Linked DNA regions of Homo sapiens: region 1 is linked to region 2. The links come from fine-mapping of genetic effects on gene expression. A gene starts in region 2. The other region holds a variant in brackets. All regions are shown on one strand. Distances are between the middles of the regions. Region 1 overlaps SNX19 (sorting nexin 19). Region 2 holds the start of SNX19 (sorting nexin 19).

The links. PIP is the estimated chance that this variant, and not a neighbour inherited with it, causes the effect. A credible set is the group of variants that fine-mapping cannot tell apart.
Region 1: its variant is the best candidate, but not a certain one, in a credible set for the expression of SNX19 in lung (TOPMed, PIP 0.57).

The regions. Positions count from the first base shown.
Region 1 is chr11:130,883,901-130,889,280 of GRCh38, reverse strand. All of the region lies in intron 8 of SNX19 (sorting nexin 19), which reads left to right. Among named protein-coding and RNA genes, the nearest start is that of LINC02551, 24 kb to the right of the region's middle. The variant G/T (reference allele first, on the strand shown) is at 2,341.
Region 2 is chr11:130,913,489-130,918,868 of GRCh38, reverse strand. SNX19 (sorting nexin 19) reads left to right here and starts at 2,390. Exons shown (of 11, transcript NM_014758.3): 1 at 2,390-4,603. The coding sequence starts at 2,930. RefSeq lists a silencer at 2,198-2,477 and an enhancer at 2,598-2,647.

The DNA of each region.
Region 1 (5,380 bases), 30 kb after region 2:
TAGTTAACTGCGATCAGATTCTAGGTGAACATATTTTAAAAACAGAAAGAGGGGACACATACTGAACAATGCAAAAATAGTAGTAATAGAACTAGTAAGAACAGGGTCCAGTAAGCTTCAACTCAGAAGGAGCTGAGGTTGTAGATAAATATTAAGGGAAAAGACTTAGGTGAAAAACACATACACGTGTCACATGTTACTAACAAGAAAAAATATATGTAGGTAATTGTTTGGGACAGATGCTGTAGTATCAACTGATTACATGGTGAAAGCATTTATTCATTCATTCAGCAGTGAATGAATGGGTCTATTATTTGCTAGGCTGTTTTCTATTTTCTTTGTCAAGGAAAATGGCCTAGCAAGAAGAATTGAACAGACATGATTAAAGTAGAATTGGCGACCAAAATAGAAATGAAAATAATAATAGAGCACGTAACCTATTTTAAAGTTTGTACATTTAAACCTGTACATGGCCTAGATGAATTATATCCCATGAAACTTAACAAATTTATATTTAACATTAAAGACCTAAGGTCATTAAGAAACATTGCCATTTGTCCATATGGGTTAGAGATGCACAGATATCTTGCCTTTTTAAAAAATGGTTAAAGGTTCTTGACCCCAACATTTATTTCTGGAAATTTCTGAAGCAGATGACGAAATAGATGTTTGTGAACATTTGGGAAGGGCAATGGGGAACCCTAGAAACCATTATGGGTTCAGTAGGAGTGTGCCCTGCCTGATTAGCATGCAGTTGTAGTTACATTGTGTATGGATTCCAACAAGTTTTTGCCATAATATCCATATGGACAGAATGGAATATGTTGCCTGCATTATAGTACATTTAAGTAATTTGTGGCTAGTCGAGTGTCTTTAGCCCAAGGGTATTAAATAATATCATAAACTGATGCCATCCTAGAGGGAAATTTCTAGTAATAGAGCACTGCTCTTCATCTTATCCTGATCAATTTTTTCATCAGAAAATTTGCAAGTAATTCTAATCTTAGAGGAGTAGTTAAAACTCTAGATGATGAAAATTAAGATTCAAAAACATTTAGAAAACTTAGAATGATAATCTAAAGCCAACAAGATGAACTATAATTTAGATTTTTTTTTAATTGCACAAATACAGAAGGGCAAGACTATACTTAACAGAGGGGCACACGATTTTTTTTTTTTTTGTAATGTACCTGTGTGGACTTAGGATTTTAGCTGGCTGAAAACTCAATATGAGTCAGTGCTTTTGACGTGTGTGCCAAAAAGCTAACACAATCTTCGGCTGTATGAGAAGTATAGTATCTAAATCTAAAGGAAGGCTCAATCCCCTATGTTCTTTGCTGGTCAGGTCACATCTCAGAGCTGTTTGGTTCTGGGCACATCATTTTAAAAGAAAAGCTAAGCAGCACACCCAGAGGATGGAGCCAGGTTGAGGAGTGGTTCATTTCTCTCCTTCTTTCATCAGACATTTATTGAGTGTCTTTGAGGTTGGCAAAATCACGGATGTATGGGATGTAGAAGAGACATAGGGGAGAAATAATAGCTGAATTTAAAAATGCAAAATGTTGTCTTTTGGAAGAGATTTAACCTAATATCTGGTAACTCCAGAGAGTAGAACTAGGACCAATGACTAGAATTCATTAACACAAGGAGGCCGATTTGGGTTGGCAAGGTTTAAGAAGCATCTTCAATGAATTTAGATTATGCTTTTAAGGAATTAAGCCACTTGCCTGAGGTCACATTGCTAATTGGGTAGCAGAACTAAGATAAAAGCCCAAGTTTCTGGATTCACAGGACCCAACCCTTGTCTATGCCGTTATATTACAGAGGAGGTTTCTGCTTTGGGAGGAGACTGGATAAAATAACCTCTAAGTTTCCTTCCAACTCTCAAGTTGTATGTTCTTATAAGCCACTTGATGTAAAATATTTCCTTTTGGTGCCCAATGCTTTCATATGTAGAGTTGGTGAGATTGGAAAAACCACTAAGGTTGAACAGATGATTTTTTGAAGTTCCTTCCTTAAGAATCCTTCCATTTTTTAATACATATTAATTTTATATCTGTGATGTGTACATTACTAATCAAAAACAAAAACTGTTTGTGGCTAGATATAAATGTATGGAACTCAGATTCTTATATTGTGGTATTTAGGAGAATGTCAAGTCTTCCCTTGAAGTACATGATTCAAAGATGTGGATCCATGATTTAAAACATGAAAGCAAAAATCAGAGAAGAAATTGTGCCAACTCTGAGCCATTTTAGATTTCACAGTAGTATTGGGAGAAAGAAGTGGTAGTTTCTTGCCCTCGGGGTTCATTTCCTCCTCATTCTTCCCCAGCACTGG[G/T]CAGGAAAGGATGGTGACCTAGATACACAGTCAGAGGGCAGCAGTGTTGAACTTTCTCAGACACAGCTGAGTAACTTGGGTCTGGATAGTTACAGGACAGAAGCCTAGAGCTGAGAGCTGACAGGGGAAACTGTCTATAAACACAAGAAGGGGCCATGGCAGGAAGACAGAGGCCTGGGAACGGCATCAGAGAGAAAAGAAGTATAACTTTTATCAGGTGTGAAATGGGCAAAAACATTTTGTTTAATGGATAATGTCCTGAATCTACACCATCACCTCCAAGACCTCCTTTCTCTCCCACCCTATAGATTGCTGCTACTGATTGGATGAGCCAATACTCATACTTATGTGCTAGGACTGGCAGTACAGAACACAGTGTTCATGGTTGAGGCCCCTGCAAACATTTTACAGGGTGCTTGGGTGGGTGGAGATGGGGAGCATTTCCAGGAAGCTAAAAATGTGGCTTGGGCTTCTCCTACTTTCTCTCGGAACTCCTAATTCTTGACACTGCATGAGTGTTTTTCAAACTTTTTTTAAAACTTCAACCTACAGTAAAAAATGCATTGTACGTTGCAGCCCACTGTGAGCATGCACATAGGCACAGGCGCATACACACATATGCATGCACGCAGATCTGATATATACATATATATGTACATACATACGAAACAAGTGTCTCCAAACATGAGATGCCTTTTTATGTTATCACAAACAACAAAACAGATGATATGACCTCTAATGATGTCCAGCCCACAGGTCGAAAAACATTGCGCTACAACCATGAGGTTTAAAATGACTGTGAAAGTAGCCTGATACAATTATATCCAAAAGTCCCTGGGTCTAAGGCAGTAATTCTCAACTGGAGCAATTTTGTCCTCAGGGGACATGCCGCAATGTTTGGAGACATGTTTGGTTGGCAAAACTAGCATCTAGTTTGAGGGGAGGAGGGGCAAGGATGTTGTGGAATGTTTTATAATGCACAGGAAAGCCCCTATGACAAAGATTTCGCAGTCCAAAATATCAGTAGTACCAACGTTGAAAACCCTGCTCTCAGGGTAATAAAATAAGTCAATACTTCTAATTTACTGAAGGTGTACTTAGGATGATAGAAGCTTTAACTTGATCTTCCTTTTCTTTCTCTTTTCCTTTGAACTGTATTTGGTATCTTAAGGTTGGAGCATAATTGCCCTTGGATTGTCTATAGAGGTACAGCCAATAGATAAATAGGCTGGAAGGAATGGACCTGTTATTTTCCTTATATTTAGACTGCACCAGGCATTTTTGTTTAGAATATTGTTGTGGATCTTATGAATATTTTCTGTTTTATGATTTTAGTATCTTCTTCCCTTTCTCCTCTTCATTAAGCCATACTGATTCAAGACCCTTTCTCACTCAGCCATAGCTGCTGTCTTAGAAAAGAAATGAAGGGGATTTGGCTAATTGGATTAGACATGGTCTCTAAAGCCTTCTCCTTACTCATGAGATTTGATTCTGCTGTTTTGATGGGAAATGACCTTCTACTAACCTTGAAGTGCCATCTTAAGCCCTAGTATTAAACTGTCTCCTTTTTAGTCATTGCTTCATTCCCCTATCTGCGGCTATTTCAGACCAGGTTCCCTTGAACATGGAGTGGATGTGCAGTCCCAGCTACTGACAAGCCCTGATCTCCACATCCTTTCTTCTCCCCTGTCTGGCATAAGGGAAGCTCTTGAATGTCTTGGGGTCAAAATGTGGTTGTGGAGTGGGGTTTTTTGGCCATTTTACTGGCTATTTCTAGGCCCCCTATTAAGGCTCTGAATCATTCAGAGATGGCTTGACACAAGAGACCTGGTTTGGGTTCTTTTTTCTTCTCTTCTTTGGGATGAAGGCAGGATAATAGAAAGAGATATCTCTAAATCAAATATCAGACCTGGAATAGTAGTGGAAAATAAAACCAGTGCTATCTGAGGCTATTCTCTACCATATTTATTTTAGCATATTTACTTCATGCATCTTGTATTACATGAACAAGAGCATTTGTATTTAGTAAATGATTTATTATAAGTAATTTTTTTTTTTTTTTTTTTTTTGAGATGGAGTCTCCCTCTGTCACCCAGGCTGGAGTACAGTGGCGTGATCTTGGCTCACTGCAGCCTCTGCCTCCTGGGTTCAAGCGAGTCTCCTGCCTCAGCCTCCCCGAGTAGCTGGAGACTACAGGCGTGCGCCACCGTGCCCAGCTAATTTTTTTTGTATTTTTAGTAGAGACGAGGCTTCACCATGTTGGCCAGGCTGGTCTAAACTCTTGACCTCAGGTGATCTGCCCGCCTCAGCCTTCCAAAGTGCTGGGATTACAGGTGTGAGCCACTATGCCCGGCCTATTATAAGTAATTTCTAATGAATAGTAAGAGAAACGTGTGTGTGTGTTGACCTTGAAGCTTTAGATTTCTGTCAGCCTAATAGTAAATGGTACCAGCAAAGTCCAGAAACTGATGCTGGAAAACCTCCTATGATGTATTAGAGTTCAGACACATAAATTCCATCCCTTCCACTTAAAGAGAGCTCTATAGGGTTACGAATCTCTTTTTAACCTTCCCACTCCTATGATAAGAATAGAAAGATGCAGTGTAGAAATCGCGAGATGAAGAGAGTTAATGGAGAGGAGTTGAGACTTCTGCCCCTTTTAACAATCCTACACCTAATGTCTTTGTCTTCCGTGCTCTAGCCAGTTTCCAAATAAATCAAGCATGATTAGGGGAGTTAATAAAGTTAGATAATGAAATGGTGGTGTGTATGGAGCTTTACCTTAGAGAAGGATGATAGAACCAAAGGAAGGGAAGGTAGGGATGAAAGGGAGAGGAAAGATATTTGGATGAAGAAATCTCCACCTTCTTCATTGCTCTCAAGAACCAGTGGCAGTTGGTTCCATCCAGGTGTTGGGCAAGGCAAAGTATACCAAATCCCTGAATATACAGCCATTTACAACTTAAGAAAGGCATAGTGAGTGATAATAAAGTGTGTCTTAGAAATTGAATTACAGCTTAAAAAATTTAGAGATTGTATT
Region 2 (5,380 bases):
TCCTTCTGTTTGCCCCTTGCTCTCGCTACCCAACATTTCCTAAAATACACTCAATTCTTTTTCATTTCCCAACTTAAGGGAAAACTGTCTATGAGCCACCCCCCTCCACAGCTGACCACCCGCTTTGTGTTTCGATTTTATTGTATGCACTTCTATTACAACACATCAGAACACATCACATTACACACGTGATCATGTTTCATTACGTTTATATATTTATGTGTCTCTCCTTTAACTAGACTGAGAGTCCCTTGAGGAGAATTATTGTATCTTATTTGTCTTGTTTTCTCCAACACTCTAGCACTATGCCTTTAATGTTTTGAGAAATAGGGAAAAGGAAAGAAGGAAGGACGTCTCCAGATGGTGAGTGGTGTGGCCAAGTCTCCCCACCCCACATACACACACCAGGGCACATCAGTCCTGACTCTCACCTCCTCCCAGTGATTAATCTGTTTGGAGACCAGGGTCTGCCCAGACCCCCAGGCAGGAGCTCACACCCGTCCAAATGACAAGTGCACGGGCATGTCCATCAAACCCGCTTCAGAATCAGGAAGGCACTCTTGGCTACCTTGATGCTCCAGACCATCTGGTCAGGTGGCATAGCGCCCACTTGCAAGGTCACTTCCTTACTGCCCTGAACACTCCAGATTATGCTGCCAAGTAAACTTTCTCTTTGAACTGCCACAGGAAGTCTTCAGCACCGTCGGTAGTCCCTTCATCATTCACATTTCTGTTTTAGCTCCCAACTAGGTGGCAGGGACTTTTCTCCAGAGCATTGTTGCCATTTTCTAAGTGCTCCTGAGGACATTAGAATGGTCTGGGAAGGTAGAGGGGCAGAGCCCACTTCTCGGGTTCCTTTTCTGCGGGAAGGCAGGCAGCAGTGAAAAGGTATGGACCGTGAAACCGTGGATTCACATTCTGCCATCTCACGGGAGTGCCCAGTCTGCTTAGTGGACACTGATCCTAAATCAAACCATTTGCTTTAGAAGTGATGAATCGTAAACTACGGGTCACATCTAAATGATGGCTTCTTTCGTATTCAAAGGAAGTCTCTGCCCCAACAGCAGCAATGGACGAGACAGGAAGCTGCAACGCACTTCTTGTTGGCAGAGTTTTGGGTTGGGATTTGTTTGAAGATTCCTTTAAACATCTAGGGAGTAGTCCATGATGATGAAAGACTGCTCACAGCACAGAGAAGGTGGACGAAGGGCAACCATGAGCAGCTCTGTGCAAACGATGCGAATCCTATGCCTAAATGGAAAGGAGACCCACCCTGCGGGCACAGCTCCTAGGGCCCAAGGTGGACATGGAAGCTGGCTTCACGCAAAACTGACACTAACACTTTTGACACCTGGTCAGTGCTTCCGGTATTTTGTCTTCCTATAGGTTCCTGTGTAGACAAGTGAAGTCTAATTTGCTAAAACCAAAAACAATCCAACATAGAGCATATTCCAAAGCAAATATATTACAGGATTATCTGAAAGGACACCTCTATCTCTGCTTTCCTTTTCTATGTTTTTGGGGAGGATAAGGCGAGAAGAGATAGAGGGAAATAGAAACCCTCATCCTTGAAGACTCAGCAGAAAGGCACCTTTTCTGTGAGCTTCTCCTTAACCATTGCAACCCACAGTGATCTCTCCTTCCCCTGAATTCCTATAAGATTTTGTATTTTACTATATCGCACGCTGACTGGCATTACTAGATAGCCAATCGCGTTCAAAGCGCTGGCATCCCCAGTTAGCAGGAGGTCCTGGAGGACAAGGTCTGCTTCTATTCGTCCACGCTGCCTCTCACATTGAAGACAGCAGATGCTCAAAATATTTGATTGTTTGTGTAATGCCACCAGCAAATAACCCTCAATCACAAATTTGATTTTGTGATACAGTATATGAAATGTACAACATAAATCTATCTCTGTATCGTTTCATGCCTTATATTCTGCAATTCCTGACAACAAATGAGGGTCTTTGTGCTGGGGACGCGGGGTACCGGCTCTAGGGGAAACCGGATAAATGTTAAGACACATCAGGCCAATGAAACTTCGCCTCCATGAAATTAAAATAAACCGGATTATTGACAGCGTGCCTAAGCAGTAAAGGACAGGCTTCATTTAATAACCAGAACTAGGACGCGTTTTAAAGCGCCTGGAAGTCTGGGTCTTAGCGGTGATTGCTGCGGCGGCTGTTTCGTGGCACTTCGGAAATCTGCGCCAGCTCTTGGCGAGCACGCGCCCCGTGCGCGCTCAGGCTCACGCTCAGGCTCAGAGACTACCTCGCGCAGGGCCGTCAGGGCGGCTCCTCGCCAGCAGAGGGCGCCGGGCAGCGCCGCTCCTCGGGGCGCGCGCGGACGCTCTCCCAGCATGCCTCGCTCCCGTCGACGTCGACCCGGAAGCTGTCGCCGGCGGCCGGCCGGCGGTCAGCCTTCACACAGGCCCGGCTGCGGAGCGCAGTCGCCCAGGTTTACGGCGGCAGAGGGCCGAGGCTCCCGGAGAGGACCGCGATGAGTCCACTTCAGGTCGGGGCTGAGTGTGGGCGCGCGGTTCCCGGCGGCGTGTGACCCAGTCTTCGCCGGCCGCTGCCCGCTGCGTGTGTAAGTGTCCGTGGGCCCCAGGGCCTTGCAGCGCCCGCCCCGAGGCCCCGAAGAGGCCTTCCGCCTGGGGCAGTGTGAAGGCCACAGAGTTTTCCTCCAAAGCCACACCTCAGCTGGAAGGGGCGAGTTGGAGGGCTCTGTTAGTGGTAGCCATGGGGAGACGCGGAGCTGCAGCTGTCGCTTTGCAGTGCCTGTAGGACTTTGAGGGCCTGGAGCCCCGGTTCCCTGAACAGCACCCAGATCGCCCCATATCTGAGACACAGTTCATGCCCCCCTTCCCTAACTCTGAAGTAAAATCTTGAGGGCTGTCATCTGGGGAAGCCACCTTGTCCGTTCAGCCATGAAGACAGAAACAGTGCCACCGTTCCAGGAAACTCCAGCTGGATCGAGCTGTCACCTCAATAACCTGTTGAGTAGCCGGAAGCTGATGGCTGTGGGGGTCTTGCTTGGCTGGCTCCTGGTCATACACCTTCTGGTCAACGTGTGGCTGCTGTGCCTTCTGTCGGCATTGCTAGTGGTGCTGGGAGGATGGCTGGGCTCCAGCCTCGCTGGAGTGGCTTCAGGTCGACTGCATCTGGAACGCTTCATCCCGTTGGCCACCTGTCCTCCATGCCCTGAGGCAGAAAGGCAGCTGGAACGGGAGATCAACCGCACCATCCAGATGATTATTCGAGATTTTGTGTTATCTTGGTACCGTTCCGTGAGCCAGGAGCCAGCCTTTGAGGAAGAAATGGAGGCAGCCATGAAAGGGTTGGTCCAGGAGCTTCGGAGAAGGATGAGCGTGATGGACAGTCATGCTGTTGCCCAGAGTGTTCTGACTCTCTGCGGTTGTCACCTGCAGAGCTACATTCAGGCAAAGGAGGCCACTGCAGGGAAGAATGGTCCAGTTGAGCCTTCCCACCTCTGGGAGGCTTACTGCCGGGCGACTGCCCCACATCCTGCTGTGCACAGCCCCAGTGCTGAAGTCACCTATACGCGTGGCGTTGTGAATTTGTTGCTTCAAGGGCTGGTGCCCAAGCCCCACTTGGAGACTCGTACCGGACGCCATGTAGTGGTCGAACTCATCACATGCAATGTAATCTTACCACTGATCAGCAGGCTGTCAGATCCTGACTGGATCCACCTTGTACTCGTGGGTATCTTTTCCAAGGCCAGAGATCCAGCACCCTGCCCAGCCAGTGCCCCCGAACAGCCCTCAGTGCCGACATCTCTGCCACTGATTGCTGAGGTAGAGCAGCTTCCAGAAGGGAGAGCTTCTCCAGTAGCAGCCCCAGTATTCCTAAGTTACAGTGAGCCAGAGGGTTCTGCAGGCCCCTCTCCAGAGGTTGAAGAAGGCCACGAAGCTGTAGAGGGAGATTTGGGTGGGATGTGTGAAGAAAGAAAAGTAGGAAACAACTCATCTCATTTCCTACAGCCAAATGTTCGAGGTCCCCTGTTCTTATGTGAAGACTCAGAGCTGGAGTCTCCGCTGTCTGAACTGGGCAAAGAAACCATCATGCTCATGACTCCAGGCAGCTTTCTCTCTGACAGGATTCAGGATGCCCTGTGTGCCCTAGAGAGTTCCCAGGCTCTGGAACCCAAAGATGGTGAGGCATCTGAAGGAGCAGAGGCTGAGGAGGGTCCAGGGACAGAAACAGAGACAGGCCTGCCGGTCTCCACACTGAATTCCTGCCCAGAGATCCATATTGACACAGCAGACAAGGAGATAGAACAAGGAGATGTTACCGCCTCTGTTACAGCTTTGCTGGAGGGGCCAGAAAAGACCTGCCCCTCACGGCCGTCATGCTTAGAGAAGGATCTCACCAATGATGTGAGCTCCCTTGATCCTACTCTGCCACCAGTTCTGCTTTCCTCCTCTCCACCTGGTCCTCTCAGCTCAGCCACCTTCAGCTTTGAGCCCCTAAGCAGTCCCGATGGTCCAGTTATCATCCAGAACCTTCGTATCACTGGCACCATTACAGCCCGAGAGCACAGTGGCACTGGATTCCACCCATACACACTCTATACTGTGAAGGTAACAGGATTAAAGCTGTGGGTGCTCACCCGGGCTAGGAGTGGGTTTGGAAAGCAGTCATGAAGCAAATGTTCTTGGGGGAGAGATGCTGTTAGTTTGAAGTGGTTCTTTCAATAGGCATCTATCTCTGTGAATGGTCTGAAGCTAATATGTAAGGCAGAGTAGCGTTTATCCTGTACTCACACAAGCAATCCTGGAACCTCAGGGCTGCTAGAATGCTGAGGGTTATATTTTCAGTGGTTCCCAAACTTGGCTGCACCTCAAAATCACTTGAGCTGCCTTTCAGATATACAGATTCTGACAGACTCTGTTGGATTCTGTATGAGAATTTCTAAGGAGGGGGTCCCTGGATTCTGTATTTTATTTATTTTCAAATAGAACTCTCCAGATAACATAGAGTCAGCCTGTCCTAAGGCCATCTTGGGGAATTGCCTCTCTAATCCAACCAACCCTCTTCATGTTATCTCTTGTCAAGTTGTTCCCAAGTCTGCTTACACACCTCCAAGAGTCAAAAACTTGCTATCTTCTGAGATAGACATAGGTAAATAACCTACCTTCCTAAAACAAAGTACAAAATGTACCAGTATTTTGAAAAAGAAATCAGCAGGGAAGAAGTTGAGAAAGAAAATTCTTGGACAAGATCCTACCCATTGGATTTTACTTGCCTTCCACACTTGAATTTCTCTCATTTGAGTCCACAAGCTACCACCAGGGACAGCCTGCTTGCTACACTCCTCCGAACTCCCAATCCAACTAAGAGGGAAAAGACCTTCCTTG